2 separate regions of the Homo sapiens genome follow, and region 2 is linked to region 1. The links come from fine-mapping of genetic effects on gene expression. A gene starts in region 1. The other region holds a variant in brackets. All regions are shown on one strand. Distances are from middle to middle.

The links.
Region 2: its variant is fine-mapped to the expression of CORIN in whole blood (TOPMed, PIP above 0.99).

The regions. Positions count from the first base shown.
Region 1 is chr4:47,830,410-47,846,750 of GRCh38, reverse strand. CORIN (corin, serine peptidase) reads left to right here and starts at 8,684. Exons shown (of 22, transcript NM_006587.4): 1 at 8,684-8,864. The coding sequence starts at 8,802. It overlaps LOC101927179 (a long non-coding RNA gene), which reads right to left and starts at 15,406. Exons shown (of 3, transcript NR_125881.1): 1 at 15,243-15,406.
Region 2 is chr4:47,907,355-47,923,695 of GRCh38, reverse strand. It overlaps NFXL1 (nuclear transcription factor, X-box binding like 1), which reads left to right and starts at 9,113. Exons shown (of 23, transcript NM_001278624.2): 1 at 9,113-9,331; 2 at 9,491-9,727; 3 at 12,702-12,872. The coding sequence starts at 9,493. LOC101927157 (a long non-coding RNA gene) reads right to left here and starts at 9,469. Exons shown (of 3, transcript NR_125879.1): 1 at 8,992-9,469. RefSeq lists enhancers at 465-964, 9,133-9,362, 8,873-9,558, 9,559-10,245. The variant T/C (reference allele first, on the strand shown) is at 8,239.

The sequences.
Region 1 (16,341 bases):
ATGAACTCATCATTTTTTATGGCTGCATAGTATTCCATGGTGTATATGTGCCACATTTTCTTAATCCAGTCTATCATTGTTGGACATTTGGGTTGGTTCCAAGTCTTTGCTATTGTGAATAGTGCCACAGTAAACATACGTGTCCATGTGTCTTTATAGCAGCATGATTTATAATCCTTTGGGTATATACCCAGTAATGGGATGGCTGGGTCAAATGGTATTTCTAGTTCTAGATCCCTGAGGAATCGCCACACCAACTTCCACAATGGTTGAACTAGTTTATAGTCCCACCAACAGTGTAAGAGTGTTCCTATTTCTGCACATCCTCTCCAACACCTGTTGTTCCCTGACTTTTTAATGATTGCTATTCTAACTGGTGTGAGATGGTATCTCATTGTGGTTTTGATTTGCATTTCTCTGATGGCCAGTGATGATGAGCATTTTTTCACATGTTTTTTGGCTGCATAAATGTCTTCTTTTGAGAAGTGTCTGTTCATATCCTTCGCCCACTTTTTGATGGGGTTGTTTGGTTTTTTCTTGTAAATTTGTTTGAGTTCTTTGTAGATTCTGGATATTAGCCCTTTGTCAGATGAGTAGGTTGCAAAAATTTTCTCCCTTTCTGTAGGTTGCCTGTTCACTGTGATGGTGGTTTCTTTTGCTGTGTAGAAGCTCTTTAGTTTAATGAGATCCCATTTGTCAATTTTGGCTTTTGGTGTTTTAGACATGAAGTCCTTGCCCATGCCTATGTCCTGAATGGTATTGCCTAGGTTTTCTTCTAGGGTTTTTATGGTTTTAGGTCTAACATGTAAGTCTTTAATCCATCTTGAATCAATTTTTGTATAAGGCGTAAGGAAGGGATCCAGTTTTAGCTTTCTACATATGGCTAGCCAGTTTTCCCAGCACCATTTATTAAATAGGGAATCCTTTCCCCATTTCTTGTTTTTGTCAGGTTTGTCAAAGATCAGATAGTTGTAGATATGTGGCATTATTTCTGAGGGCTCTGTTCGGTTCCATTGGTCTATATCTCTGTTTTGGTACCAGTACCATGCTGTTTTGGTTACTGTAGCCTTGTAGTGTAGTTTAAAGTCAGGTAGCATGATGCCTCCAGCTTTGTTCTTTTGGCTTAGGATTGACTTGGCAATGCAGGCTCTTTTTTGGTTCCATATGAACTTTAAAGTAGTTTTTTCCAATTCTGTGAAGAAAGTCATTGGTAGCTTGATGGGGATGGCATTGAATCTATAAATTACCTTGGGCAGTATGGCCATTTTCACAATATTGATTCTTCCTACCCATGAGCATGGAATGTTCTTCCATTTGTTTGTATCCTCTTTTATTTCAATGAGCAGTGGTTTGTAGTTCTCCTTGGAGAGGTCCTTCACATCCCTTGTAAGTTGGATTCCTAGGTATTTTATTCTCTTTGAAGCAATTGTGAATGGGAGTTCACTCATGTTTTGGCTCTCTGTTTGTCTGTTATTGGTGTATAAGAATGCTTGTGATTTTTGCACATTGATTTTGTATCCTGAGACTTTGCTGAAGTTGCCTATCAGCTTAAGGAGATTTTGGGCTGAGATGATGGGGTTTTCTAGATATACAATCATGTCATCTGCAAACAGGGACAATTTGACTTCCTCTTTTCCTAATTGAATGCCCTTTATTTCCTTCTCCTGCCTGATTGCAGAAGTAGGAAGGATTTTAAAATTATGCTGGATCTAATTCAAAATTTAGTGTCATATTCTTTTTTTTTTTTTTTTTTTGAGACAGAATCTCGCTCTGTTGCCCAGGCTGGAGTGCAGTGGCATGATCTCAGTTCACTGCAACCTCTGCCTTCCAGGTTCAAGTGATTCTTGTGCCTCACCCTCCCAAGTAGCTAGGATTATAGGCATGTGCCACCAAGCCCGGCTAATTTTTGTTGTTGTTGTTGTTTTTGTTTTTTTTTGTATTTTTAGTAGAGATGGGGTTTCACCACGTTGGCCAGGCTGGTCTCGAACTCCTAGCCTCAAGTGATCTGCTCACTTCATCCTCCCAAAGTGCTGGGATTACAGGCATGAGCCTCTGCGCCTGGCCCTAAGTATTAGCTGGTGTCCAGAATTAAAGGACAGTCATTCCTTTCTTCATGGGTGTTTTGATTTTAGAATTGTTAACCTTTCCCAGTGGTAGAATTACAGGGTTGGCATTTCAGAAGCTCTAAATCAGATACACTACACTCAAGTTATTACCTGTACTAACTAAAAGTTGAGTGTTAAGGGAACAACCGGGTGTCTACGTGGAAAGTCATTTCCATCTGTGTCAGAATCTTGGCCTATTAAGTGAACATGAAACCTAGTTCATATCTGTTGTTTGTAGGGCTTCGGTACTAGCTAAATTGTTTTTCCTAATTTGGGGAAAAGAATTTAGGAGCAGAGGAAGGAGACTGAATGAATGGTATATGAAGTTGTTTGTTGTTTTTTCATCTTTTTGGCTAGCTCAGAGTGTAACTTATTTACCCAAAGTCACACAACTATTCCTTCACTTATTCAGTCAACAGATGTGTTTCCTATATGTCAGGAACTTTCTGTGTTCTGGAGATAATGGTGATCTTTCCTCCTATATTGTTGCTAAGGCACAGACAAGCACAGGCAGGTAATAGACATAAAAAAACGTGATTTTATGTGTGGTAAGTGGTATTCAAGAAAATAAGAGGAATGGTATAGAATGTGGTGGAAGTAGGGGATACAAGGACACTGGCTAATTTAGAATGGGAAAATCCCTCTGAGATGAGGATATTAGAGCCGTGACCTGAATGACCTCCATTTGAAGATCAGCGAAAAATCTATACGAGAGAAAGCAGTAAGTACAAAGTCCCCAGTTTGGGAAATGCTTGGCACACCTGAGGAGCAGAAAGAAGGGCTGGTGTGGCTGGAGCCTAATGAAATTTAAATTGAGAGGAGGATGTGTCTAGGCCAGTTTATGTCATGCTTGATAGACCAGGGTAAGAAATTTGAGTTGTATTTGAGTTGCAATGGACAGCATTGGAAGGCTTTAAACAAGGAAGAGACTTTTTTTTAAAGACCGCTGGCTACGATATAGAGAAAAGACTATAATGATGCAGAGACAAGTTAAGTTTTATCTAAGTAGTTATACTGATTTGTTCTGAGGGAAATAAAGTAATGCATATTGTCCTTTTAGGTTCAATCTGAGCGAATTAGAGAAGGAATGGAAAAAGTTACCAAATAGCCACTAACAATGGCCTAAGATTGTGAATGTGGTGGTCTTGTTTTCCTCCTTACTTGTGGCATTAACAAAGTGTATGAGCTTCCTATTTGAAATCTGTGGAATATGTATATTGAAATCTTTAGATTTTTTTGGTTTAAATGCTTTTCAGAATTGACAAACTGTTTTTCAGTTAATTTCACATCTAAATTAAATGAAAACAATCTCAAATAAGTACAATTGCTACTGAAATTGTCAAAGGAATTTTGCTGAGGCAAAGCAGTGAAAACATTTCCCTTCTATAAAGAAGTTATGATGCTTGAACTTAATGGCTATGAAGGTTAAAAATTTTAAATACAGATTAATCTCTGTGCTAGTGTTTAGAGAGAGATGACATATAAGAATTTTTTGGCTCTTCATGTTATTTTAAATGCTCATGAGTAATACCAGAAACAGGCTTTATTTGGAAATAGATATACTATTTAAGACAAAATTTGAAGAGATTTATTTTAAAGTGTTCCATTTCTCTTTGAGAAATATTTTTTTTCTTTGCCTAGATACCTGGCACAGTGATGAACTTAATAGAAGATTCTGTCCTCACTATGCATATGGTCTGTGTTGTGGGTTCTTCCACATAAGCAAACAGGTGAAGATTAAGCCAGGCCACCCATGTGGGGGATCTAGCCCACTGCCAAGGGTGACTTTTTAGGGTGCTTGGGCCTCATCCATCCTTTTATAATCAAGATTATTAAAACAATGGGAGATGCTGTATGCTGATCTCCAGAAGAACAAAGAATTAGTTGGGTGTTAAACCAAGAACACTAAAAATGCAGCAGTAGCCAAAATTGCTGTGACCAGGTATAGGACAGTAAAAGGAAGGCTGTAAAAAGAACCTCTGAGGACCCAGGTGACTCTAGCTGTTAATGTCTGTCTGTCCTTGGATATTGGGAACTGAAGCAGATGTCTAAGCTGTAGAGCTAGAGTTGACATGAGATAGCTCTGTCTCTTCTTGGGTCTGTGGAAGTTGCAGTCTTTATCGAGTGGCAGTGATTAGACCACTCTAAGACCCAAGGCTTATGAGGCTGGGGAGCTTCCAGGGTGAGGAAGAAGCAAAGTACTAGCTACTACCTCCTAGAAAAGATGCGAGAATTTGGGAGTGGTGGGAGGAACTGAGAGACCCTGTGATTTCCAGCAACTTAAAGAGACAAGCAAGACCAGGTGTCCACCTGGGAAGCCATTTTTACATATTTTAGAATCTTGGCTTATTGAACAAGCTCAGGTCTATTGCTTACTAAGCTTCTCTTCTTGCTAAGTTTCCAATTAGTAATTTAAGTCGTGCTGTGAAGGATTGTATGCAGTTTGAAACTCCACAGTCCAGATTCATTTGAGTTAACACCTCTGTATCCCATATATGTATTCTCTTAATACATCACCTAATATTTCCAAAGCCCCCCCCCCCAGTCACTGTCATCTGGTCATCCTCTATCTTCTCACAATACTTTTTCCTCATAGCACTAAATAGTACCTGTCCTCATATTAAGTGTCTGTTTATTATCTGCCTCCTTCCCTGGAATGTAAGCTTCATGAGGGCAGGAGTGCAGTTTTGTTTATTACTGTAACCTCAGAGTAGAGAAGCCTGGCCACATAGTAGATGCTAGTATTCGTTTCCTAGGGCTGCTGTAACAGATACCATACATGAGTTACTTAAAACAACAGAAATTTATTCTTTCACAGTTTAGGTGGCCAGAAGTCCCAAACCAAGATATAACAAATTATATCTGCAAAGCCTTTATTTCCACAGAACCACATTCTGAGGTTCTGGGTGGACATTAATTTGGCAGGGAGTAGTGGGGGGACACTAACCTACTACAGTGCTCAGTAAATATTTATTGGGTGAATGAAAATTCAGAGTGTATTCTAAGCTGTAAACCCCTTGGATGTTTTCATCACAGTCTTCTCTTAATAACTGCTACAGAACATAAGGATTAGTTTGTGGTCCCAGATTTTTTAGGCTCCAATTCTGCTTCTACCACTTTCTACTTGTGAGCTCTTAGGCAAGCTATTTAACTTTGTAAGCCTCAGTTTCTTCTGTAAAATGGTGACAATAAGAAATAACAGTAAGTGCCCAATAAGTTTTAACTATTATTATGTGTCTATAGCTATTTTAAAGCACTTTCTATATGTAATCCTCATAACAACCGTATTAGGTGAGCCTATTACACTTCTCATTTTATGACAAAGGAAACTAGATTTGTTTCAAGAATGAAAAACCTAGAAAATTATATGTCACTTTATGAAGTGCCTGGCACATAGTACATAGAATAGCTTAGCTACAATAATATAGATATGTGACTTTACCTCATAACTTTAAGACATCTCAAATTGATTCACAAATCAGAAAAAAAATCTGAGGCATCAGATGTGAGGTGAGGTGAGGTGAGGCATCTCAGTTTTTGCACATATGGTTACTGTTATTGAGGGAGCTCCATGTCATTGAGGGAGCTCCACGTCATTGAGGGAGGACTGGGTGGGATGCTGGCCAAAGGTAGGGGCATATTTAGGCAGTGAAATTGCAGTTATGGGACCCCTCTATAGCACTAGATGTGTGAGAGGACTAAAAATAAAATTCCTTTGAAATTTCTTACAGGGTCATATATTACCTCCTTCCCAATGACTACTGTGGTATATTAGAGTAGGGGATTGATGTCCCAGAAATATTATGTACATCAAACAGAAGATCTACACAAATTGTTTTATCAGATACTGAATATATCAATGGGCTAGAGTGTATTATAGTACATATGGGTATGTTGTTTTCCCCCTTTTGACTAAATAAACTCTCCCCTCTCTGCAACAGGTAAATTTCCAGTTTACCTTTTTCTTGCTGTTTTTAATTTTTTTTATTTTGAAGGCTTTGTATCTTTATATCTCAGCTGAAAATATTACATTCTAACTCCCCAAAGCTATTCTCACATTATTTGCAAGTATTTTTTCATAGTTTACATGTTTGTGTATTTGTTTAATACATTCCACAAGACTGAAAGTCTTGGTGAGGGCAGGAACTCTGTCTAGGTTGTTCATCTGGCAGCCAGCAAACCCAAAATAAGTATTAGTTGAATGAATAGCTAAATAGATGAGCCATGGGGTAGCATATCTGTTTTAGCTACTGCTTGCCTGTTATCATCCTGGGATGCTGCTTGCTTCTCCGTGATCTCTTCTTGTTCTTAAATTGTCTTCAGTTGTAGTACTAAGTACTAATTTGATCTGTAATGTGATATGTGGCTGAAGTTTGCTCTGTAAAATCACCGTTTCCTGAGGTATATTCAATATCTTTAATTTTTCCATAAATCTCTTCAAGGTTTGTGTGTGTTTTCTTTTAAATTATCTAACTAGTTGGATGTATGCTTGAAGTGCTAGACAATAAAAGTTTCAATAGGCTAGAAATGTTTCTTTTTGTAAAATTATTTTAAGAAACTAGATGATGGTTGTCACTTGAAGCTGAAATGCAAATGTAGCTAGTTTTTTTTAAAGAATAATTCAAATAGGTCATTAAAGATTACTATGAGCACACTGCATATTCAAATCAGTTTGAATATGTTTTGAGACTTCTAATAGTTTATGATTCTTGACATTTTAATGAGCACACTGCATATTCAAATCAGTTTGAATATGTTTTGAGACTTCTAATAGTTTATGATTCTTGACATTTTAAAAGTTTATTATAAAGAATATAAAACATCTTTACCCTCATTTTTTATGTCATTACCTTCATGCAAAGAATACCTCAGGTATTAATTCTGGTGCTGTTGGTAACTAGAACTGGTTGGGTTTTCTTGCTAAAAGGAAGTTTAAAAAATGTTTATTTTACACCATTAATGCAATTAGCTTTAGTTCTCAGAGGAACTAAAAGTGGAAAAGTGAGGGAGACTGATCGACCCTATCTCAAATCCACTGACGTAGCTACTTTAATTTCATAGTCCCTGTAGCACCTCCACCAGAGGGCAGAAAGTGGAAGAGAAAGAAGATGAAATAGAAACTTGTACTTGGCCTCAGAATGCCTGTAGAAACCTTAGCAATTGAATCCAGCCCTTATGTTATAGGCTGAGTTAACTGTGGCCCAGAAAGACTATGTGATTTGCTCACAGTTCTTGATTCCCAGACTGGCACTGCGGTGATGGTGTGTGATGAGGTAGTATCTTAGTAAGAACACAATCCAGAAGTCACTGCCTCGGGGGAATCCCAGCTCAGCTTCTTGCTAGCTTGCGTAGGCTGGTTACTTCACTTCAGCTCCCTGAATCTGCTTTCTTATCTCTAAAATAAAAATAATAGCTTCTTCCTCAGAGTAGTTGGTGGAACTGAAAGAATACATGTAAAGTGCTTAGTATGACACCTGCCACATAATATGAACTGAATTATTGTGAATTATGATAAATTTGTCAGATACTGGTTTACAAATCGGATGTTAGAATAACATGGAATCAGTGTTTCAGTCATTTTACTATACATATGCAATATTTTCTACATTTGATCTCACTTCAGAAACAAAATACTGCCCCCCCCATTTTACAAATGCATATTTTTTTCTCAGCAATAATGTTCAAGAACAAGTGCTTGGCCCATATTTTGTTGTCTTTACATGGCTTTCTTTAAATAATGGGGATGGATTTATTAAATAACCTCATGAGTAATTTTCAAAATTTCCATTAAGATCTTGATTGAAATTGGATGAAAAATCATTTCTAAGAAAAACCCAATGAAGTGTTTTTCTTTGCCACATTTGACAATTGCCTTGGACTTGGTAAAGTAATCATTACTGTGTTGAGTACCTCCAGTGCCCTCCTTGACGCTGCCTTAGAAAAGGTAGCTGCTTTTGAATGACAGGCAGGAATTTGTTCGCCTTTTAGGTTCAGCCTGTAGGTGCCCTCTGCAGGAAATCAGGAACTAGGGTTTTGGAAGCAGTCAGGGTGGGGTTCTCCCTTGTCCCTGCAGCCTCAGCAAAGACTCAGGCAGTCTGGCAAAAGCAGTTTCTTCAGCATACCTAACAGAACGCAAGTTTCCATATGCCTGATGCAAATAATGGCCTCCAAACGTTAAACCTTTTTTGAGATAAACTTGTTCTTTAATTGCCAGCGCCTGCAGTTAATTTTGATTGGCTACACTCTGGTTAAAAGAAAATGCTTTCGATGTGATATGGCAAATTTGGAGAAAAGTAACTCTTTTGCTCCCAACCAGTCTTCCACAACTTAAACTTAATCGTCCTGTCCTTTTCTGCTGCCCTCGTGGAGTGTAAGTTTTTGAGGGAGACCAGCAGAAACTGACTTTCCATATGCCCCTGAAGAATAACTTCTTTGAATGCAAAGAGGTGGGGACACGGAGGATCTGTCATTACGGGTTATTATGGGTGGGACCCAGAGACGGGAGTGAAGGGAGGGTGTGGCCCGCGGGTGGGATCTGTAGAGCAGACAAAATATGGGGCCCCTGGCGCTTAAAGTTCAGTTTGTCTCTCTTGAGCTTGGAGAAAATCATCCGTAGTGCCTCCCCGGGGGACACGTAGAGGAGAGAAAAGCGACCAAGATAAAAGTGGACAGAAGAATAAGCGAGACTTTTTATCCATGAAACAGTCTCCTGCCCTCGCTCCGGAAGAGCGCTGCCGCAGAGCCGGGTCCCCAAAGCCGGTAAGATCGATGATTCGCTGTCCTACCGCAGCCAGGTGTGATGGCCTCTTAGTCCCGGTGAATTCAGGGTCAGCCCCTCCCGCCCCCGTCCTCTCCTCCGCCCGATGCCACCTCCTTCCCCAGCCGCCGGTGAGCTCCCGCTCTGACAGTTCCGCGCTCAGCGCCCTGCACCCAGTTCCCAGGCGCACGGCCCTGGTCCCGACCACCACCCCGGTCGCCCGGCGTCCGAGACCCTCCCAGGGTCATGGGCAGGGTTTCCTTCAGTGTTCGAGTCGGCTCGATCCGGAGACCCCGGTCTCCATGCCGGGGGTGATGCCACCTTTCCTGCAGAGTCCCTCCTCCGCACGGTGCCCTCCAAGCATCTAGTGGACTTGGCTGCACACTGGCGGCAGGGGAGGCTGCAGGTGGAGCTGTCGGAGCCAGCCCCTCGGGGATCTACAGCTTCCTGTCTGCGCCGGCGTCTCGGGCGCCGGGTGGCTGGAGGGACTGTGCAGCAGTCTTGCCTGCCCCAGACGTAAGCCCCCTTCCCCAGCTGCGAGCGCCTGGGTGTCGGTCCCTCCACAGCCCGGGCTCGCGCTTGGTTCCCCGGCCCCCAGTTGGTGCCTGGGGATCACTCGCCCGTCCTAAGTGCTGGCATCCCAGAACTGGCCCTCTTGCAGAGTGCTGGGAACTTGTAGGTCCCTGCGTGCAAACTTTCTCCGGCGTGAACCTGCCTAGGCACAGGAGGGCTGGCCGCCGGGGGCGCAGGCTCTGCGCTGTAGGATTTGGTTGGCTCAGATCCAGTCCTGGGAAGGGGCAGCGTTGGCTCTCGTTCAGGAGGAGAAAGAAAGGGAAGGGCACCACGGACAGTCCCTACTGGCCTGAGCCCCCAGGAAGAAGGTCTAATTTGCGGCTGCCCCTCTCCTTCGGTGTCATTAGGGCCCCGGAATCCGCTTGCTACCGCGAGGGTCCCAGCTGCTCCGAATCGGGGACCGACCGGTGACGCTAGCTGCAGGCAGAGAGGGCAGGCTGTGCGGGCGGAAGGGAGGTGGTGTCTTGTCGGATCTTACTGGGACCCAGTTCCTGAGCTCCCGTGGCAGGCGCCTCACTCCTGCTACTACCTGCTCGGGGCCAGTGGATGGCAGTGTACGCGCTTTTTGCACGGCTCCCGGTTCCTGGGACCGAGCCCTGGGAGCTCTGACTTTGAATTCAGCAGGGAAGCTTCGGGGCTGGGCATTCCCAGGGAAGCTGTTCGAGTAATTCATAAAGTGGAGCTTTCCTCCCGCGGGAAACTTCTGAGAACGATGCGCTGCGAAGACGGACTCCTGTACAAGACTTCGATGACTGACATAGGCACAATTGTGGCTTCTAGTTTTTATTTTAACTTTTTATTTAAAGTAACTTATCGATGGAAGCGAAACTCTGCAAAGGAACGTCAGACCGCTACCAGAAAGGGGGTGAAGTCAGGACTTACTGGTGATTATTGTCCAAGGACACATTTAAGCAGATAGTTTTGAAATTAATTTTGGCATAACCCTGAGACAATGAGAAGAAACAATGCATTTATAAAAAGTTATTAAACCATTTTTTTTTGTCACAGTCAAAACATTCATTAGCTTGTTTCTATTATTAGGTGCCCAATAGGTTTGTTGTGTGAGATTGTGCTAAAAATTGGTCCTCAGATCCTGGGACTTGAGAGGTTAGAGGAGGTTCCTGGGGCTTGCGAGGTTAGAGGAGATGTCTGCATAGACTCACGTGTGGGCTTGGCTGACCAGGCAGGTTTTCCATAGAATGCTTTCCAGGACACCAAGAATTTCAATAGGATGAACTATTTTGGGGTTATTTGGGTGTGGAAACACATCAACCTCAAAACCCCAAGATTCTATAAGGCATTTTTTAAGGGGGAGGGGACTCTTTCCAGAAAGTTCCTTTCAGGGTAGGCTTACAGGACCAACGATGAAAGCCTCTGTTAACCTTCCTGTGGGTTAAAAAGACACACCAAGAATTGCTCTATTAACCTTATCAAGCACATATCCAGGTACAGAGACACTTTCTTAAAAGATGCAAAATTCATTCCATCAGAAACCTTCCTCATAATGCTGCAGAAATCACAATAGCAACAGCATAGAAGGCAGGCATCAGTGCTTCCGCATCTTGCATTCCACAACCAGCTGTGGTTTCCTTTTGGAAGGGTCACATTCTCCACCATAGCTTCATGTGGATTTCAGCAGTTGCTAGTTCTATTGACTGGCCAGCCCCTCTGTTGACCTCCCCCACTGTTGGGGGCAGACAGGAAGTTAGAGGAGAAGCTGAGTGGCCCAGGAGCTTCAGAGAGTCACTTTCAAAAGCCTGTACTTTCAAATCTCCATACTGTTAATGAGGTACTCCTTTCCTTATTTTTCCTCTTTTCCGCACTTGTAGCCTCTTTCAACACAAAGACTTGTGGTCTTAGGGTTTCTGAGTGTCCCCACTGCTGGGGTAATAAGAGCTCTCTGAGGAGCAGGAGAGCCGCAACACTGAATTGTTGCTGAGCGTATCTGAGGGGGAAAGGTTTGTTTGACCTGCTACTTCTACCTAATAAGTTATTCAACAAGTATGGATTCATGCATCCTGTTAGCCCCATCACTATTCTTGGCATTCCATTTTGCTGGACCAAATGGAAAATGAGGCTGGCTGGCTAAAGGGTACTGACCTGATACTGGCTGGCTAAACATACTAGGTTCACACTAAACACTCAAGGGATTCCAAGACTTACCTGTTCCTCAGAGTCTACACACTCACATAAAGACACACACAGACATAATACACTTGTTTGTTTTATGTCTGTTCAGAGAGGGTGGAAATGGCAGACCCCTTAAGAGTAGAAGGTGCTGTAGATGACCTGCCTTGGTGGGAAGAGTAGGAGCTTTGGTGTCAGACCTCTGACTCTGCCCCTTAAGAACCGCAAGGCTCTGGGCAAGTCAAATAATCTTGCTGGGCCTCAGTTTCCTTGGTCAGAAAATGTAGATGGTACTACTGACCACTGGTAAGGACACTGCAGACTGTGGAATACGTACTAGAAGTACTTTATGTAATAGTGGTATATTCTGGTGAAGGTTCCCTAACCTTTTTTTAAAAAACTACTTTATTGAAGTATTGGCGAGCAAAAACCTGTATATATTTAATGTAAACAATGTGATAGGTTTGGAAACAAGTATACATCTATAAAACCGTCACCACAATTAATGTCACAAACCTATCCATCATCTTCAAAAGTTCCCTTCTGCCATCTTTATTATTGTTATTATTATTTTGTTATAAGGACACTTAACATAAGATCTACCCACCTAGCAAATTTTTAAGTATAGAATATAGTATTCTTAACTACAGAAGCCATGCTGTGTAGTAGATTTCTAGGACTTATTTATCTTGCATTACTGAAACTTTATACCCTTGGTCCAATACCTCCCCATTTCCTCCTCCTCTGGGAAACCACCATTCCACTCTCTGCTTCTATGAGTTTGACTGTTTTAAGATTCCTCAATTAAGTGGGATCATGTAGTATTTGTCCTTCTGTGTCTGGCTTATTTCACTTAGCATAGTGTCCTCTAGGTTCATCTCTGCTGTCAGAAATGGTAGGATTTGTTTCTTTGTTAAGGCTGAGTAATATTGTACTGTATGTATATATACATACTGTTTATATATACCCCATTTTTCTTTATCCATTCATCTATCAGTGGACATTAGGCTGCTCCTATGTTTTTGCTATTGTGAATAATGCTGCAATGCACATGGGAATGCAGATGTCTTTTCAAGATCCCAATTTTAAATTCTTTGGTTACATATCTAGAAATGGGATCATATGTTAGTTCTATACTGTATGCTGGTATCATATGCTGGATCATATGATAGTTCTATTTTTAATTTTTTTGAGGAACTTCCATACTCTTTCCCATAATGGTTGCACCAATTTACATTCCCATGAACCATATACAAGAGATGCATTTTCTTGGCATCCAACACTTGTTATCTTTTGTTTTTTGATCACATTAACAGTGGCAAAGGGCTGAAATCTCTTTGTGGTTTTGATTTGTAATTCTCTGTTGATTGGTGATGTTGAGCATCTTTCATATACTTACTGGCCATTTTTATGTCTTCTTTGGAGTAATGTCTATTTAGGTCTTTTTCCCATTTTAAAATCAGGCTATTAGCTTTTTGGCTACTGAATTGAAGGAGTTCCTTATATATGTTGGATATTAATCCTTTATCAGATATATGATTCGCAAATATTTTCTCCCACTTTATAGATTGCCTTTTCATTTTGTTGATCATATCGTTTGCTATGCAGAAGCTTTTTAGTTTAGCATAATCTTATTTGGTTATTATTGCTTTTTTTTTTTTTTTTTTGCCTATGCTTTTGGTGTCGTATCCAAGAAATTATCGCCGAGATCAATGTCAAGATTTTCCTTTATGTTTTCTTTCAGAAATTTTACAGTTTCAGGTCTTATGGTTAAGTCTTTAATCCATTTTAACTTGATTTTTGTGCATGGCATGAGATAAAGTTCCAATGTTATTCTTTTGCATATGTGTAGCCAGTTTTCCCAGCACCATTTGTTGAAGACATATCTTTCCTCCATTGTATATTCTTGGCATCCTTGTCAACTATGTATGTATGAGTTTATTTCTGGGATCTCTCTTCTGTTTGGCCATATGGCTGTTTTCATATGAGTACCATACTGTTTTGATTAGTGTAGCTTTGTAATATATTTTGAAATCATGACGTATGATACCTCTAGCTTTTTTTTTTCTTGCTCGTAATTGCTTTGGTGATTTGTTTCCTAATCTGTTTTTACTTGAGGATCCAGTCTCATCCTAGACTTGGTGAGAAATGTCTCAAGACTTTTTCCACAGGCAGCTTTCTGTGACTCTAGAGCCATGTGATGCAATGGAGTAGCTCTTAGCCAATTGTGGTTGTTTAAATTTAATCAACATTAAATCAAATTAAAAATTTATTTCTTCAGTCTCCTTGGGCACATTTTAAGTGCTCAGTTATTTTATAAAGCTGGTGGCAACTGTATTGGGCAGCACAGATACATGATCTCCTTCGTTGCAGGCTGTTCTCTCAGGCAGTTCTAGAGCTTTCTTTTGCTTGAGTGATGATATAAGATTTTAGGATGATAAAAATTTTCCTAGGCCAAGGCACAGTGGCTCACTGGGATTACTGGAGGCTGAGCCAGATGGATCACCTGAGGTCAGGAGTTCGAGACCAGCTTGGCCAACATGGCAAAACACCATCTCTACTAAAAATACAAAAAAATTACCAGGGCGTGATGGCACCTGCCTGTAGTCCCAGCTACTTGGGAGGCTGAGGCAAGAGAATTGCTTAAATCCGGGAGGCAGAGGCTGCAGTGAGCCGAGATCATCCCAGTGCACTCCGGCCTGGGTGATAGAGCGAGACTCCATCTCAAAAAAAAAAAAAAAAAGAAAAGAAAAGAAAGAAAGAAAGAAAAGAAAAGAAAAAGTTTTCCTGTAAAGCACCTCTATTTGCTTCTTTTTCTTTTAAGAAGTGGTTTCCTATAGCAGAATCACTTCCGTTTGTTGAGGTCTCTTACGTGGCCTAGGCATTTGTTGAATAGTAAATGGCCAGATTGATGTATAAATCACTGACAAGTGAGTATTAGTCACATAATCCTCTGAGTTCTCCCCTTCAGCCTTGATGATTTTGCTTATGTATTGTTCTTTTCCCTCCCTATGAGCTTTATGGCCGATGATTTTCCTGGTTTTACAGCAGAAACTAATACAACAGAAGGAGGCTCTTCTCCCTCCATATGTACTCCTACATGTTGTACCATTTTTTACAAGAATGAAAGCACTATAATACTAAGTACAATGTTTGGGGGAAAGATCCACCAAGTGTTTAATTTAATCAGGCTTAAAAACTAATACTCCACCTCACTACGTAGGACCCCTTCTTGAACTCATCCTCATTTGACAAACTATATATTTTACTTCCATGGCCTTCCTGGTGTGTGTTTCTGTGTGTTCTCTTATTATAAGAACATCAGTCATATTGGATTTAGGCTTCACCCTAATCCAGTATGACCTTGTCCTAACTAACTTCAACTGCAAAGACCCTATATGCAAAGGAAGGACACATTTTGAGGTTCTCGGTGAACATATATTTTGGAGACACTATTCAACCCATTACAGATGCATAGATAGGTCAGTCTTTTCCCTAGCTGGATTTCTTACCCCATGAAGTATATTCTGTTCCTGAGGCTTTACTAAATCTGCTTTAGTGCAAGCACAATCTGTAATGTTTATTATTCTCATGGACAGACGATCATCATGCAGGTTGGGAGATTATGTTCTGCTAATGAGCGCTTTCTACCTGGGTGTGGAACACATGGGATGACTCACCTTGGGACTGCTGAATCAGCTGTTCTTCCCCAAGCCTGTCACTGTCCCCAGTTCTGTCTTCAGTCTCCACCCTTTCTCTTCACTCATAAAGAGCCACAGTCATCCTGGAGCAGTGGCTAGTCTGTTTGCCTCTTTCTTGAGCCTTCTGCATTGGCGTTTGGTCTGCTCTGAGCTCTGCTGAAGGGTGCCCATTAATTATGCCTTCCCTTCTGCCTGCTGGCAGTTGTCCCGATCAGCTCACCTTACAGCAGCTGTTTGCATATTCTCCTGCAATACATTTCTACATGTCCAAACCATCAGAGCTGGTGGTGACAAATGCAGTGTCAATGCTTAATCAGGCTGGTTGAGGATCCAAGGTTGTCCTGTAGGTGATCCATCTTGTCATTAATGTCAGTGCTGAAACTCTGTAAGAGGCTCAAGATGACATCTGTGGAGAAGGGCCAGTCGGCCAACAGGCTGGCTTAGGAGCAGGGCAGAAAATATAGAGGCGAGTTGCGAAGACCATTTTGGTGTCTCCAGCTTGTGCTTCCTTAGCCCAGGGTCCCTTCAACCTGTTAACCTTTAGGTTGACAGCACTTGAAGAGTACTTTTTGTTTGTAGCACTTTGGGGGAGTTTTAAAGTCCTATGCAGCTATGAAAGTAGGTGTCAGTGTCTCTGAAGCCACAAAAGTGTCATTCTGCTGAAGTGTCATAGATAGAGATTGACAGTACCAGGAAATCTTAATCTGAGACTCCAAGAACCTCCTGAATGGTGAAAAATCTTTTTATGCATAGTTCTGTTTGAATTTTTCTGGTAATAGCACCACAACTTCCCAAGAAGTGAAAGCCATAGCTAGACCTAAATAGCTTTAATGTATGAGAATTCAACTATACAGGCTGGACAAAAAGAATACATTCATCTCCTTATTTAACAAACATTTATGTGACAGGTATATTATTAGGCACTTAGGAGACATCTATGAACAAAACAGGGATTCATGCACTTGTGAAGCTTGGTTTCTAACTAAGCAATAAACCCTAAACCATGAGTGCAGGGAGGAGAGATGAATGTTTAATTAATATGAGTCATTCTATTCAGTGTCCTGGAGTAAGAGCAAAA
Region 2 (16,341 bases), 77 kb before region 1:
CTGTTTAGGTACTTTAAAAATAACTGGAATTTCTAGGTAAACATTAAATGCATATACACAGTCATCATTTGCCTGGTGGTTAAGAGTATAGGCCAGGAGTCACACTACCCATTTGCAATCCTAGCTCTGCTAGTATGTTGAATAAGAAATTGTTTTGATGGGGGAGTTGCTGAATAGGAACAGCTCTGGTCTACAGCTCCCAGCGAGATCAACACAGAAGACAGGTGATTTCTGCATTTCTGCAGAAACGTGACTTCTGCATTTCTGCAGATACGTGACTTCTGCATTTCTGCAGAAACGTGACTTCTGCATTTCTGCAGAAACGTGACTTCTGCATTTCTGCAGAAACGTGACTTCTGCATTTCTGCAGAAACGTGACTTCTGCATTTCTGCAGAAACGTGACTTCTGCATTTCTGCAGATATGTGACTTCTGCATTTCTGCAGAAACGTGACTTCTGCATTTCTGCAGATATGTGACTTCTGCATTTCTGCAGATATGTGACTTCTGCATTTCTGCAGATATGTGACTTCTGCATTTCTGCAGATATGTGACTTCTGCATTTCTGCAGATATGTGATTTCTGCAGGTGATTTCTGCATTTCCAAGTGAGGTACCTGGTTCATCTCGTTGGGACTGGTTGGAAAGTGGGTACAGCTGAAGCAGGGCGGGGCATCATCTCACCTGGGAAGCACAAGGGGTCGGGGGATTTCCCTTTCCTAGCCAAGGGAAGCCGTGAGTGACTGTACCTGGAGGAATGGTACACTGCTGCCCAAATATTGTGCTTTTCCCACAGTCTTCGCAACCGGCAGACCAGGAGATTCCCTCCTGTGCCTGGCTCAAAGGGTCCCATGCCCACGGAGCCTCACTCGCTACTAGTGCAGCAGTCTGAGATCAACCTGGGATGCTGGAGCTTGGTGGGGGAAGGGGCATCCACCATTGCTGAGGCTTGAGTAGGCAGTTCTATGCTCACAGTGTAAACAAAGTGGCAGGGAAGCTCGAACTGGGTGGAGCCCACCGCAGCACAGCAAGGCCTACTGCCTACCGAGATTCCACCTCTGGGGGCAGGGCATATCTGAACAAAAGGCAGCAGATAGCTCCTGCAGACTTAAACGTGACTGCCTGATAGCTCTGAAGAGAGCAGTCGCTCTCCCAGCATGGCGTTCGAGATCCGATAATGGACAGAGTGCCTCCTAAAGTGGGTCCCTGACCCCATGTAGCCTGACTGAGAGACACCTCCCAGTAGGGGCCACAGACACCTCATTCAGGCAGGTGCCCCTCTGGGATGAAGCTTCCAAAGGAAGGATCAGGGAGCAATATTGGCTGTTCTGCAGCCTCCGCTGGTGAAACCCAGGCAAACAGGGTCTGGAGTGGACTTCCAGCAAACTCCAATAGACCTGTAGCTGAGGGTCCTGTCTGTTAGAAGGAAAACTAACAAACAGAAAGGAATAGCATCAACATCAACAAAAAGGACATCCACACCAAAACCCCATCCGTAGGTCACCAACATCGAAGACCAAAGGTAGATTAGACCACAAAGATGGGGAGAAACCAGAGCAGAAAGGCTGAAAATTCCAAAAACCAGAATGCCTCTTCTCCTCCAAAGGAACACAACTCCTCGCCAGCAAGGAAACAAAACTGGATGGAGAATGAGTTTGACGAGTTGACAGAAGTAGGCTTCAGAAGATCAGTAATAACAAACTTCTCCGCGCTAAAGGAGCATGTTCTAACCCATCGCAAGGAAGCTAAAAACCTTGAAAAAAGATTAGAGGAATGGCTAACTAGCATAACCAGTGTAGAGAAAAGCTTAAATGACCTGATGGAGCTGAAAGCCACAGTACGAGAACTGCGTGAAGCATACACAAGCTTCATGAGTCAATTCGATCAAGCGGAAGAAAGGATATCAGTGATTGAAGACCAAATTAATGAAATAAAGTGAGAAGACAAGATTAGAGAAAAAAGAGTGAAAAGAAACAAAGCCTCCCAGAAATATGGGACTATCTGAAAAGACCAAATCTACATTTAATTGGCATACCTGAAGGTGATGGGGAAAATGGAAAGAAGTTAGAAAACATTCTTCAGGATATTATCCAGGAGAACTTCCCCAACCTAGCAAGGCAGGCCAACATTCAAATTCAGGAAATACAGAGAACACTACAAAGATACTCCTCGAGAAGAGCAACCCCAAGACACATAATTGTCAGATGCACTGAGGTTGAAATGAAGGAAAAAATGTTAAGGGCAGCCAGAGAGAAAGGTCGGATTACCCACAAAGGGAAGCCCATCAGACTAACAGTGGATCTCTTGGCAGAAACCCTACAAGCCAGAAGAGAGTGGGGGCCAATATTCAACATTCTTAAACAAAAGAATTTTCAATGCAGAATTTCATATCCAGCCAAACTAAGCTTCATAAGTGAAGGAGAAATAAAATCCTTTAGAGACAAGCAAATGCTGAGAGATTTTGTCACCACCAGGCCTGCCTTACAACAGCTCCTGAAGGAAGCACTAAACGTGGAAAGGAACAACCAGTACCAGCCACTGCAAAAACATGCCAAATTGTAAAGACCATCAATGCTATGAAGAAACTGCATCAATTAATGGGCAAAATAACCAGCTAACATCATAACGACAGGATCAAATTCACACATAACAATATTAACCTTAAATGTAAATGGACTAAATGACCCAATTAAAAGACACAGACTGGCAAGTTGGATAAAGAGTCAAGACCCATCGGGGTGCGGTATTCAGGAGACCCATCTCATGCACAAAAACACACATAGGCTCAAAATAAAGGGATGGAGGAAGATCTAACAAGCAAATGGAAAGCAAAAAAAAAGCAAAGGTTGCAATCCTGGTCTCTGATAAAACAGACTTTAAACCAACAAAGATCAAAAGAGACAAAGAACGCCACTACATAATGGTAAAGGGATCAATTCAACAAGAAGAACTAACTATCCTAAATATATATGCACCCAATACAGGAGCACCCAGATTCATAAAGCAAGTTCTTAGAGACCTACAAACAGACTTAGACTCCCACACAATAATAATGGGAGACTTTAACACTCCACTGTCAATATTAGACAGATCAACAAGACAGAAAATTAACAAGGATATCCAGGACTTGAACTCAGCTCTGGACCAAGTGGACCTAATAGACATCTACAGAACTCTCCACCCCAAATCAACAGAATATACATTCGTCTCAGCACCACCTCACACTTATTCTAAAATTGACCACATAATTGGAAGTAAAACACCCTCAGCAATTGTAAAGAACAGAAATCACAACAAACTGTCTCTCAGACCACAGTGCAATCAAATTAGAACTCAGGATTAAGAAATTCACTCAAAACCACACAACTACATGAAAACTGAACAACCTGCTCCTGAATGACTACTGGGTAAATAACGAAATGAAGACAGAAATAAAGATGTTCTTTGAAACCAATGAGAACAAAGACACAACATACCAGAATCTCTGGGACACATTTAAAGCAGTGTGTAGAGGGAAATTTATAGGAGTAAATGCCCACAAGAGAAAGCAGGAAAGATCTAAAATCGACACCCTAACATCACAATTAAAAGAACTAGAGAAGCAAGAGCAAACACATTCAAAAGCTAGCAGAAGACAAGAAATAACTAAGATCAGAGCAGAACTGAAGGAGATAGAGACACAAAAAACCCTTCAAAAAATCAATGAATCCAGGAGCTGGTTTTTTGAAAAGTTCAACAAAATAGACAGACTGCTAGCAAGACTAATAAAGAAGAAAAAGAGAAGAATCAAGTAGACACAATAAAAAATGATAAAGGGGATATCACCACTAATCCCACAGAAATACAAACTACCATCAGAGAATACTATAAACACCTCTATGCAAATAAACGAGAAAATCTAGAAGAAATGGATAAATTCCTGGACACATACACCCTCAAAACTGAACCAGGAGGAAGTTGAATCTCGGAATAGACCAATAACAGGTTCTGAAATTGAGGCAATAATTAATAGCCTACCAACCAAAAAATGTCCAGGATCAGATGAATTCACAGCTGAATTCTACCAAGGTACAAAAAGTTGCTGGTACCATTCCTTCTGAAACTATTTCAATCAATAGAAAAAGAGGGAATCCTCCCTAACTCATTTTATCAGGCCAGCATCATCCTGATACCAAAGCCTGGCAAAAACACAACAACAAAAAAAGAGAATTTTAGGCCAATATCCCTGATGAACATCCATGTGAAAATCCTCAATAAAATACTGGCAAACCGAGTCCAGCAGCACATCAAAAAGCTTATCCACCACCATCAAGTTGGCTTCATCCCTGGAATGCAAGACTGGTTCAACATACGCAAATCAATAAACATATTTCATCACATAAATAGAACCAACGACAAAAACCACATGATTAACTCAATAGATGCAGAAAAGGCCTTCAACAAAATTCTACAGTCTTTCATTCTAAAAGCTTTCAATGAATTAGTTATTGATGGAACGCGTATCAAAATAATAAGAGCTATTTACGACAAACCCACAGCCTATATCATACTGAATGGCAAAAACTGGAAGCATTCCCTTTGAAAACTGGCACAAGAAAAGGATGCCCTCTCTCACCACTCCTGTTCAATATAGTATTGGAAGTTCTGGCTAGGGCAATCAGGCAAGAGAAAGAAATAAAGGTGGGTATTCAATTAGGAAAAGAGGAAGTCAAATTGTCTCTGTTTGCAGATGGCATGATTGTATATTTACGAAACCCCATTGTCTCAGCCCAAAATTTCCTTAAGCTGATAAGCAACTTCAGGATACAAAGTCAATGTCCAAAAATCAAAAGCATTCCTATACACCAAGAACAGACAAACAGAGAGCCAAATCATGAGTGAATTCTCATTCACAATTACTACAAAGAGAATAAAATACCTAGGAATACAACTTACAAGGGATGTGAAGGACCTCTTCAAGGACAACTACAAACCACTGCTCAGCGAAATAAAAGAGGACGCAAACAAATGGAAGAACCTTCTATGCTCATGGATAGGAAGACTCAATATCGTGAAAATGGCCATACAGCCTAAGGTAATTTATAGATTCAATGCTATCCCCATCAAGCTACCACTGACTTTCCTCACAGAATTGGAAAAAACTACTTTAAAGTTCATATGGAACCAAAAAAGAGCCCACATAGCCAAGACAATCCTAAGCAAAAAGAACAAAGCTGGAGGCATCAGGCTACCAGACTTCAAACTATACTACAAGGCTACAGTAATCAAAACAGCATGGCATTGGTACCAAAACAGAGAGATAGACCAATAGAACAGAACAGAGGCCTCAGAAACAACACCACACATCTACAACCATCTGATCTTTGACAAACCTGACAAAAACAAGAAATGGGGAAAGGATTCCCTATTTAATAAATGGTGCTGGGAAAACTGGCTAGCCATATATAGAAAATTGAAACTGGATTCCTTCCTTACACCTTACACAAAGATTAACTCAAGATGGATTAAAGACTTAAATGTAAGACCTAAAACCATAAAAACCCTAAAAGAATACCTAGACAATGCAATTCAGGACACAGGCACGGGCAAAGACTTCATAACTAAAACACCAAAAGCAATGGCAACAAAGGCCAAAATAGACACATGGGATCTAATTAAACTAAAGAGCTTCTGCACAGCAAAATAAACTATCATCAGAGTGAACAGGCAACCTACAGAATGGGTGAAAATTTTTGCAATCTATCCATCTGACAAAGGGCTAATATCCAGAATCTACAAAGAACTTAAACAAAAGTACAAGAAAAAACAACCCCATCAAAAAGTGGGCAAAATATATGGATAGACGCTTCTCAAAAGAAGACATTTATGCAGCCAGCAGACATATGAAAAAATGCTCATCATCACTGGTTATCAGAGAAATGCAAATCAAAACCACAATGAGATACCATCTCACGCCAGTTAGAATGGCAATCATTAAAAAGTCAGGAAACAACAGATGCTGGAGAAGATGTGGAGAAATAGGAATGCTTTCACACTGTTCTTGGGAGTGTAAATGATTTCAACCATTGTGGAAGACAGTGTGGCGATTCCTCAAGGATCTAGAACTAGAAATACCATTTGACCCAGCAATCCCATTACTGGGTATATACCCAAAGGATTATAAATCATGCTACTATAAAGATACATGCACAGGCATGTTTACTGAGGCACTATTCACAATAGCAAAGACTTAGAACCAACCCAAATGTCCATCAATAATAGACTGGATAAAGAAAATGTGCCATATATACACCATGGAATACTATGCAGCCATAAAAAAGGATGAGTTCATGTCCTTTGCAGGGACATGGATGAAGCTGGAAACCATCATTCTCAGCAAAATATCACAAGGACAGAAGACCAAACACCACATGTTCTCACTCATAAGTGGGAGTTGAACACTGAGAACACATGGACACATGGAGGGGAACATCGCACACAAGGGCCTGTTGCAGGGTGGGGGGCTGGTGGAGGGATAGCTTTAGGAGAAATACCTAATGTAAATGACAAGTTGATGTGTGCAGCCAACCAACATTGCACATGTATACCTATGTAAGAAACTTGCACATTGTGCACACGTACCCTAGAACTTAAAGTATAATAAAAAAAAATTGTTTTGACGATAACAATACCTACTTCATGGTTATTGTGAAGATTAGATGAGTAAAAGAAAAAAGGACCTAGAAGAATGCTGGCACATAGAAAGCACTCAAGGATTGCTGGTCACTGTTATTAGCTATTGAATATTTGAGGGAACAGAAAAAATTTCTCAATAAAGTTTGACATGGAAATTTAGATAATATGCTAGTCCAGCTCTCTGGCATATAACATAATTCTAAGAAGGATCTCTCTTTTTAGTAGCCACTCAATACTTCTTGGACATTACTCAGTGATAATTACTATATTCTCTCTCAGAGTATAACAGCTCCTTTCCTGTATGTGAAAACCCCACTGAAGAAAAGTCTCACTTTAGGGTTTTCAAACTTTGAAAGCTGGTTGCAGCTTTAAACTTACAGTTCTTATACAAGTGCAGCATTAAGAGAGTTGCTGTGCACCTGTTAGTTTCTAGCCAATGAAGTTATATCATTCTCAGAGATGTTATTTCTTTTCTTCTTTTCATTTTTCTGAGACGGAGTTTTGCTCTTTTGCCCAGGCTGGAGTGAAGTGGCGCGATCTTGGCTCATTACAACCTCCGCCCCCTGGGTTCAAACAATTCTCCTGCCTCAGCCTCCCTAGTAGCTGTGATTATAGGCACCCACCACCATGCCCAGCTAATTTTTGTATGTTTAATAGAGACAGGGTTTCGCCATGTTGGCCAGGCTTGCCTCAAACTCCTGACCTAAGGTGATCCACCCGCCTTGGCATCCCAAAGTACTAGGATTACAGGCGTGAGCCACCATGCCTGGCCATGGGATGTCATTTTTGAGTTTGGTTAATGTACAGGCAATTCTGCAATATCTATGTTTAAGACATTAAAAGCATGGTTTCTAATACTAGACTACTTAGGATTGAATCTTGGCTTCACTACTTCCTAGCTGTATGATCAAGGGCAAATTGCTTAATCTCTCTGTGCCTCAGTGTTCTCAGTTGTAAAACGGGGATAATAAACACGGTTACTGTGAGTACCAAATTAGTTAATACATAACGTAAAACACTTTAAACAGTGCCTGACATCTAATAAATGCTATCTAAATATTATAATAGAAATTTATGGTTAAAATAGAAGAATTAACTAAGTTGAAGGACTGTACAATAAGCCATCAATATGTTTCTCAATCCCAGACAGACCCCAGAATGAATTTTTGCAATCTACCTGTCAGTATATATGCACATGTATCTTATTGGAAAACTCAGCAAAATCATAAGATTTAGGTCCTGGCCCTCAACTATTTTCCTTAACAAAATCTACTTTAGGGAGATGCTGTGAAGGTAAAAATTAGCATGTCCCAGGGAAAGCTCATTGCACACTACAAAGGACTATGACAATAACAGGCTTTAGATTTATTTTCTACATTGGCTCTAGCATTTTAGAAGGGTACTTTTACTACTCAAGCCACTTTCCTGCAACTCTCCCCCGAATTTCCCTCCTTCACAGTGGCCAACCTCAAAGCGTTTTCAATGTAAGTGCCTTTCCTGTTAGTGAGACTTCCCTATGAAAATAAATAGTTTAAAGGTTGTTGGAGCCTAAAACTCACTAAGCC[T/C]GGAGAGAGATGTGACTGTCATCTGAGTTACACGTGGTTACAACTTCTGTTTCTCAGATTATAGATTAACTTGCTTTCTTATTTTTCTTGTTCTATACAATGGCTAGAGAGAATTAAACGAAGTTAAGGACAAAAACTTCCTGCCTTCTTAATGATCCTTATAGATTAACTTCTGCTTTGTTGCCCCGGTTTGCTTAGACCAGATGACAGAAAATCCTTTATGAAAAATGTTAAATGTACACTTCCCAAAAAGAAACACTGTCTATAATCAAATTGTTGTAACTATTCTCTAACCTTGTATGAGAAAATGCTGTAATCCTGCTAAAAAACCTCTCAGTTTCTGCCTATATAAGTGAAATCTTAAATCTCTACTTCGGAACGCTGACTCCTTCCTTGGAGTCGGTGTTTCTAGGTAGGCTATCCTCAAACTTCGCGCTTTTGATTATTTTACATTGACACCTCCTGTCATCCGCAAGCTCAAAGGCAAGGCTAATAAAAGATGGCAGAGAGCCAATTAGGGACAGAGCCATGTAATCCTCATACCCAGGTGAGTTTAGGGCAGTCTTGCAGAAGCAGAAGCAAATTGTGGGGTCACGAAACCCTCCGGACCCGCCCGCCTCCACCACCACGCGCCCCTATGACCTTCGACCCCTCCCTAGCCCCAGAGCACGCCGGGAGTTGTAGTTCCCAAAGGCCTGTTCGGGCCAGCGCAGGCGCTTGGGGTTTCCCTCCCACCCAACCCCCGCACTTTACCGGATAAGGAAGCGGCCCGTGCTGCCACGCAGTCGCCGGAACGCGGGCGGGGGCTTCTGGGAGTTGTAGTCTGTTGGGGGCGTGCGCAGTCGGTAAGGAGACGTAGCTTTCCGTGGGGTGTACCACTGCAGTTGGTTCCCGGCGGGAGACGCAGGGTCAGTCTGTGACTCTTCCCCTACCACGCTCCCGCAGAGGCTGAGGAGGCGGTTTCGACTTCTCCTCCGGCTTTCTGTCTTCGGCACTGTGTGCTTCTTGCTCCGCGGTTTATTTCTGTACCTAGTCCTCCCTCCCCTCTTCGGTCCATCTCCAAAGCCCGGGCTTGGCGGGGACTCGCCCTCCGGTAAAGGCAGGGCCGCGACCTCCTAAAACCCGGTCGCCGCCCTGCAGGAACCTTCCTCACTCGGCCCCTCACACCGGGTTTCCGCACTGACCCTCCTTCGCCTCGGTCCTCGCTGCGCTCACCTCCTTCCACTCTTTTTTTTTTTTTTCTCCTTTGCAGGGATGGAAGCTTCCTGGCGCCAGGTGGCCGGTGGCCGAGGCCGATCCCGGGGACGGGCCACTGCCGCCCCCTCAGGAAATGGAGTCCATCTCCGCGGCGCCGGAGGAGGGCGAGAGAAGGGGTCGGTGGGCGCAGTTCCTTCTGGCACCAGTCCCGGAGGAGTCGCGACCACGGCGGCTGCAGGGAGCAGGCACAGCCCCGCAGGATCCCAAGCCCTGCAGACTACCGCAGCCAGCGGTGAGAATGGCTCCCGCCCGCGTGCTCACCTGGATGCCTCCTAAGGCAGTTACTAGTCAGGACCGCCTCCGCCCTCGCCTTCTTTCTTTCACTGCTTTTCCCCTCGTTCGGGAGTTTGTTATCGGGCCCACTTCTCCAGCCTTTCGGGTGGCTGCTCTTTTCGGCACTCTAGGTAGATTTCCATCGCACCTCTTTCATCTTAATTTTAGGTGGTATTACCTTTGTTACTTCCCTCCACTCTTGCCTACTTGAATCTCCAGACCATCAGTTGTAAATTGTGGCCCGGTGTTCTGATTTGGTCTATAATGTTGTTTGGTTAACACAGAGTTTTAAATGTGGATTGATTGTCAGCGGTTGTTTGTCGTTTTTAAAAATCTGGTTAACAACCTTGTGGCTTTAGTTATCTTTGTGCATGGCAACAGTCAGCTCGGCTGAGTCACAGAAATCCCATTTAGATTGGACTTGGGCATTCCATCTCACATTCTCTCTCATTTCTGGAGCCAGGTGTCATTTGTCATCTTTACCTTTGCCTTTGTTTCTTGACTTGTCTTATTCCTTGTAAGCACTTGAGCTTTTGATACCTTCCTTGACTGTAGTTCCTATTTACAAATTCCATGTCCTTCTGTGGACATATCTGGTGTTGCCTCCGATATATCAATACTTTTCATCCAAGACCATGTTTTCGTGGAGCCAGGGAGGACTTACACACAATTGTGCATGGGGCCGAGGGAATAATCCCTGAAATCATTTTATTTTTGTGTTTGGAATGCATTTCAGGATACATTTTTTTGGGGGGTGTGGAGCAGAATTGAGTATCTTGAATGATTTTTCTCCTAGGCTAATTTGAAAGGTAGGTGGTATTCTCTTAGCATGCAGTTAATGGCCGTGATGATAAGGTATACAATATGGAGACGTGTGAACAGGTTTGGTAAACTTTTTTTTTTTTTTTTTTTTTTTGAGACAGAGTCTCGCTGGTCGCCCAGGCTGGAGTGCAGTGGCGCAATCTCGGCTCACTGCAAGCTCTGCCTCCTGGGTTCAGGCCGTTCTCCGGCCTCAGCCTCCCGAGTAGCTGGGACTACAGGCGCCTGCCACCACGCCTGGCTAATGTTTTGTTTTTTGTTCTTTGGTTTTTTTTTTTTAGTAGAGACGGGGTTTCACCGTGTTAGCCAGGATGGTCTCCATCTCGTGGGTAGAAGGAAAACAAGCATTCTGTCCGGGCGCGGTGGCTCAAGCCTGTAATCCCAGCACTTTGGGAGGCCGAGGCGGGCAGATCATGAGGTCAGGAGATGGAGACCATCCTGGCTAACAGGGTGAAACCCCGTCTCTACTAAAAATACAAAAAATTAGCCGGGCGGGGTGGCAGGCGCCTGTAGTCCCAGCTACTCGGGAGGCTGAGGAAGGAGAATGGCGTGAGCCCGGGAGGCGGAGCTTGCAGTAGCCGAGATTGCCCCACTGCACTCCAGCCTGGGCGACAGAGCAAGACTCCGTCTCAAAAAAAAAAAAAAAAGAAAGAAAAGAAAAAGAAAACAAGCATTCTCTACCTGGACAGTTGAGATTTGGCTGTAAGAAATAATACGTGAGAAGGTTGTCTTGTCAGCTTCTCTTTACTTTGAGATGATGTTAGGTGAATACATTTATCAGGTTATGAATGTTCTCATTATCTCTGTCCAGTTCAGCCTGTTTTCTTATGTATCTTTTAAGTGCTAATTTCCCGTATATTAATGACATTTATCATCTCTTTTGTGACAAGTTTTGAGTTATATATCTCATAGCCAGTTCTTTTTTCCCAGTACTCAAAGCTTGCTAGGTAAGCATGATACACATTTTCGTCGAGGTTTACTTGAAATACTCAATTTGTTTTGTTAATAACCCCTAACCAAACTGGCTGCAATAAGAAAAGGAAAATGTTTCATGAGGGAACATAATCAAGTACGAATATACCACCCAAGATAAGAGAGCTTATCTTGGTAGTGGCTTATCAGTTTTAAGTATAATGTTAATTTTAAAATAGTCAATCAGTAAATTTAAAATCCTCTCAAGATGGGAATTCATGAACTCAGATCAGTTCTGCAGGTTTGTGGCTCCTTTCTTAAACTATGTTTGCTGTCCGTAAGAGCTTATTAACACTTAGTGCTTGAAGAAAATCCCTGTGGTCCTTGCTCTCAAGAAGTTTGAAGTTTCTTTGGGAGTATGTGCAGTGAAGTAATCTGGTTTTGTTTTGCATGATTAATCAAGTAACAAAATGAGAAGTACAGGTAGTGCTGAATAGTGGAAGAACGAATCCAAAATTAACATTCTTTTTGGAATGAAGTTGGAAGAAACATGTTTTCCATGTTAATACTTTGTGTGGATTAATGTAAAATATGTTTTTTTGTGTGACCACAAGAAGTCCATAATAAAGGCAAAAAGTTCTTGACCTAAGAAGCCGATTGTAAATATAGTGGGTGCATAGTGAGTACTGTTGGTACAAACTCTTTGGTAGGGCTGGACTGGACTGGGCTGGGCCGTCGTGTCCTATCCTACCTGTTGTTCAGAAGACGGTAGTTTGAAATACCTACCTTCCCTGATTCTTTATGTGCTCACTGTGGACATGTTCCCTCACTTCTTAAAAATTACTGTGCACAATGTACTTTAAAACATCTTAATTTTTGTTAGTCCTTATTTTGAAGTTGATCACCAGTATTTTGATAGTTTTATTGTATTTTCATATTTTTTTTCTTGATTTGTTAATCACCGTTATCATAAAAATTTGCTGCATTTTAGCAGGATACTTAGAAAAGTGAAAGTTTTTGTTGTGGTATTCTCTTTAGTTGTGTGTCAAGGAATTTGAAAATACTTTTCTCGTGGATTACAGGAAGGTAGAATGCTCCAAAGGTGACTTTCAAATGTGTGTTGTAAAATGATATATTAGCACATTATGCTTTTCTTTTTGAGAGATTGTTTTGCAGAAATGAAACTTTTTTCTTTTAAACAGAGCTAATGTCTCAGAAAAAATTTGAAGAAATCAAGAAAGCTAACCAAGCTGCAGCCAGAAAACTTGTTGAAGAACAGTTTAGCTCTTCATCTGAAGAAGGAGATGAAGATTTTGAAGGAAAACAGGGAAAAATACTTGCAAATACGTTTATAACATACACTACTCAGACAGGTACTGATCTTTTAAATTTTGACTTTTGACGTCAATGAAACTGTATTCCTGACATTTTTTTGGTAATGCCTTTGTTCTATATGGAATAGATTTTATATCTTAAGATGAGCACTGTATGTTATAGAGTTGAATTTTTGTACACTTTGGTATTTGAGTTATATATTGTGTAACACTAATTTTTCTATAAAGCAAATAGAATGGCAGTGGCTCTTTTATAGCCTTAGGAGGCCTTTGTGTGTATTTAATTGGCATTTCAGTAGAATGCTTGGATGGGGCTGCTAAAGCTCCTGAGCGGTGGACTGGGGCAAGTTTTTTCTGGTTGTGATGATTTGATTGAACTAGAGTACTTTGTGTACTCCTTTCAATCTATTCATTTTTTTTCATCATGTTAAATGCGTCTTGAAGTCTTTTTAATTCTTTATTTCCTTATTTTATATCTTATTTACAACATCTGATTTTCATGTATTTATTTTTAGAGTTGGGGTCTTGTTCTGTTGCCCAGGCTGGAGCGCAGTGGTACGTAGTGGTGCGTAGTTCACTGCAGTCTTCAACTCCTGGGCTTAAGTGATCCTCCTGCCTCAGCTTCCTGAGTAGCTGAGACTACAGGCATGTGCACTGCACCTAGCCGTACTTTTTTTAAAAAACCTAAATTTCCTCAGGTTTGACATGTACATTCGTGTTATCTGTGGTTTATATCTGATTGCTCTTAAAGCCACGTTTGTTTATGTGAGAGAGGGCCAAAGTGATGTTGCTGTGTACCACTTTAGTATTAAGTGTAAAAATAGATTATTTTAAATGTAAATATTATTAAACTTTCTGCCTTTTATACTTTAAAATTATTATTAGAAATATTCTTGTATGTAGGCCAGGCATAGTGGCTCACGCCTATAACCCCAGCACTTTGGGAGGCCGAGGCCGGGGGATCACTTGAGGTCAGGAGTTTGAGACCAGCCTGGCCAACATGGTGAAACCCCGTCTCTACTAAAAATACAAAAAAATTAGCTGGGCATGGTGGCACACACCTGTAATCCCAGCTACTCAGGAGGCTGAGGCAGGAGAATTGCTTGAACTTGGGAGGTGAAGGTTGCCGTGAGCTGAGATTGCGCCACTGCACTCCAGCCTGGGAGACAGAGCAAGACTCCGTCTCAATTAAAAAAAAAAAAAGAAAGAAAGAAATATTTTTGCATGTAATGTCAACATTTATTAATATATTTGTAGATATGTCATATTGTTTATATACCTTTTATTAGTAATATATATTTATGCCCTTGCTTGGTTCTTTTTCTTACTTTAGTATACTGTTAAAACCAGGAAAAACCTTACAAATATTTTGGGAAACAATTCTACAGAGGAGAGGTGACTTTCCTAGAGTTAGACAATTAGTAATTGGCAGAGCTGGGTTTAAACCTAGTTGACTTAGCTTTAGAGCCATTACTGGGCTGATTTCATTTTCTCTGTAAAAGCAGGAAAATTCTGAGGAGACTAGACGGTTACTTTTGTACCTGTTTATGGGGAAAAAGCAGCATTGTACAGCAGTTAAGAACATTGACACTTGAATCAGATTGCTACGGTTTGATTCTTGGCTTTGTTACTTGGCTGTAGGATGTTTGACATATTGCTTAGCATCTTAGGGGCTTAGTTTCTTTTGTAAAATGGGTATAATGATACTAAATACTGTAGAGTTGTTAGGATGAAATGAATCAGTATGTGTAAGTACTGTAGTGCTTACAGTAGTGCCTGTTGTGTAGTCTGTGCTGTATATCTGTTTGCTGGAATGTTTAATGTATTTTGTGGCTTGATTATTAGAGATTTTCTATCGTAACTGCTGCTTTCTTTTAAAAAATTTGTTTCTTTTTTTTTTTTTTTTTTGCGACGGAGTCTCACTCTGTCGCCCAGGCTGGAGTGCAGTGGCGCAATCTCAGCTCACTGCAAGCTCCACCACCCGGGTTCATGCCAATCTCCTGCCTCAGCCTCCCGAGTAGCTGGGACTACAGGTGCCCGCCACCATGCCCGGGTAATTTTTTGTGTTTTTAGTAGAGACGGGGTTTTACTGTGTTAGCCAGGATGGTCTTGATCTCCTGACCTCGTGATCCGCCCGCCTCGGCCTCCCAAAGTGCTGGGATTACAGGCGTGAGCCATTGCGCCAGGCCAAAAATTTGTTTCTTTTTTCAGTCATGTCTTCCCTTGATCATAAGGCCCCACATCCTAAGCTCTCTCCATCTACACTATACTAATGTGTTCCTTAGTTATTATCTTGTGCTTTCATGAGAAGTATAAGGCCAGTGATGCCAGGATTCAGGCCTGTTAGTTAGTATGACAGAATCAGAAGCATAGCAGAGTTTGAGCATTAGTTAGCATAAACGCAAATAAAGAGCATGAGAGTTAGTCTTTTTTTTTTTTTGGAGACAGTCTTCTTCTATTGCCCAGGCTGGAGTGCAGTGATGTGATCATAGCTCCCTACAATCTTGAACTACTGAGCTCAAGTGACCCTCCTGCTTTAGCCTCCCAAGTAGCTGGTACTGCAAGCACACACCACCATGCCTGGTTAATTTTTTTAGAATTTTTTTGTAGAGACAGTGTTTTCCTGTGTTGTCAAGGCTGGTCTTGAATTCCTGGCTACAGAGAATTCTCCCACCTCAGCTTCCCAAAGTGGCAGGCGTGAGCCACTGTGCCTGGCTGAGAGTTAATCAAGTCTTCAGACAGAAGGATCGATGTATTTCACCTTTCCCTTCCCAACACATAACCTTGGTGATTAGATAGTTGCCTGAGTATATTGATAGGATCATGAAGATAGTTGTACATCATCAAGTAGGTTTCTAAGGAATTTACCATATCTGCTAAGGAATTAAGATTAGGAAGTTTGGCTGAGAAGTCTAGGTTGGCAAGGTAAGAATTGATAAAAAGTAACTCTAAGGTTAGAGGGTTTCTTGTTTCTGAAGGACCTTATAGAAAATAATCTTAAGAAGTTTTCTGCTTTGAGAGGAACTCACTTAAACCATTCTAGATAGAGTCATTTTATTTTAAAATAGAAAATGCAATAATGTCTTTCAGTCTAGTATGTAGAAAACATTTGTCATTTGTAAGTTTTATTAATTTTTAATCTGGTTTTAATCTTAAAAGTGTTATGGTAATTTTTTTATGCTGTGTTTTGTATAAAATCCATTAGTATATGATTCCCATTCCTTTGCCTCTACCAATGTAAGAAAATCTGATCACTTGATTTAAGAACATACATTCCAGAGTAATGGGATGGTTCCCACCTTAACATTAGTGAATTGAAGACCAGGACTTTACCAAAGGAGTTCATTTTTATTTGAGCACAGCCTTTGCATTTTTGTGATTCTTCTCTCAAATTTCAAACTTGCATGGCCAACTTCCTGATGAGTATCTCTATCTTGCTGGCACGTGGACCCATCAAACTGCTGTTGAAAGAGAACTTATTTATTCTTTTGTTTTCTTAATCTTAATA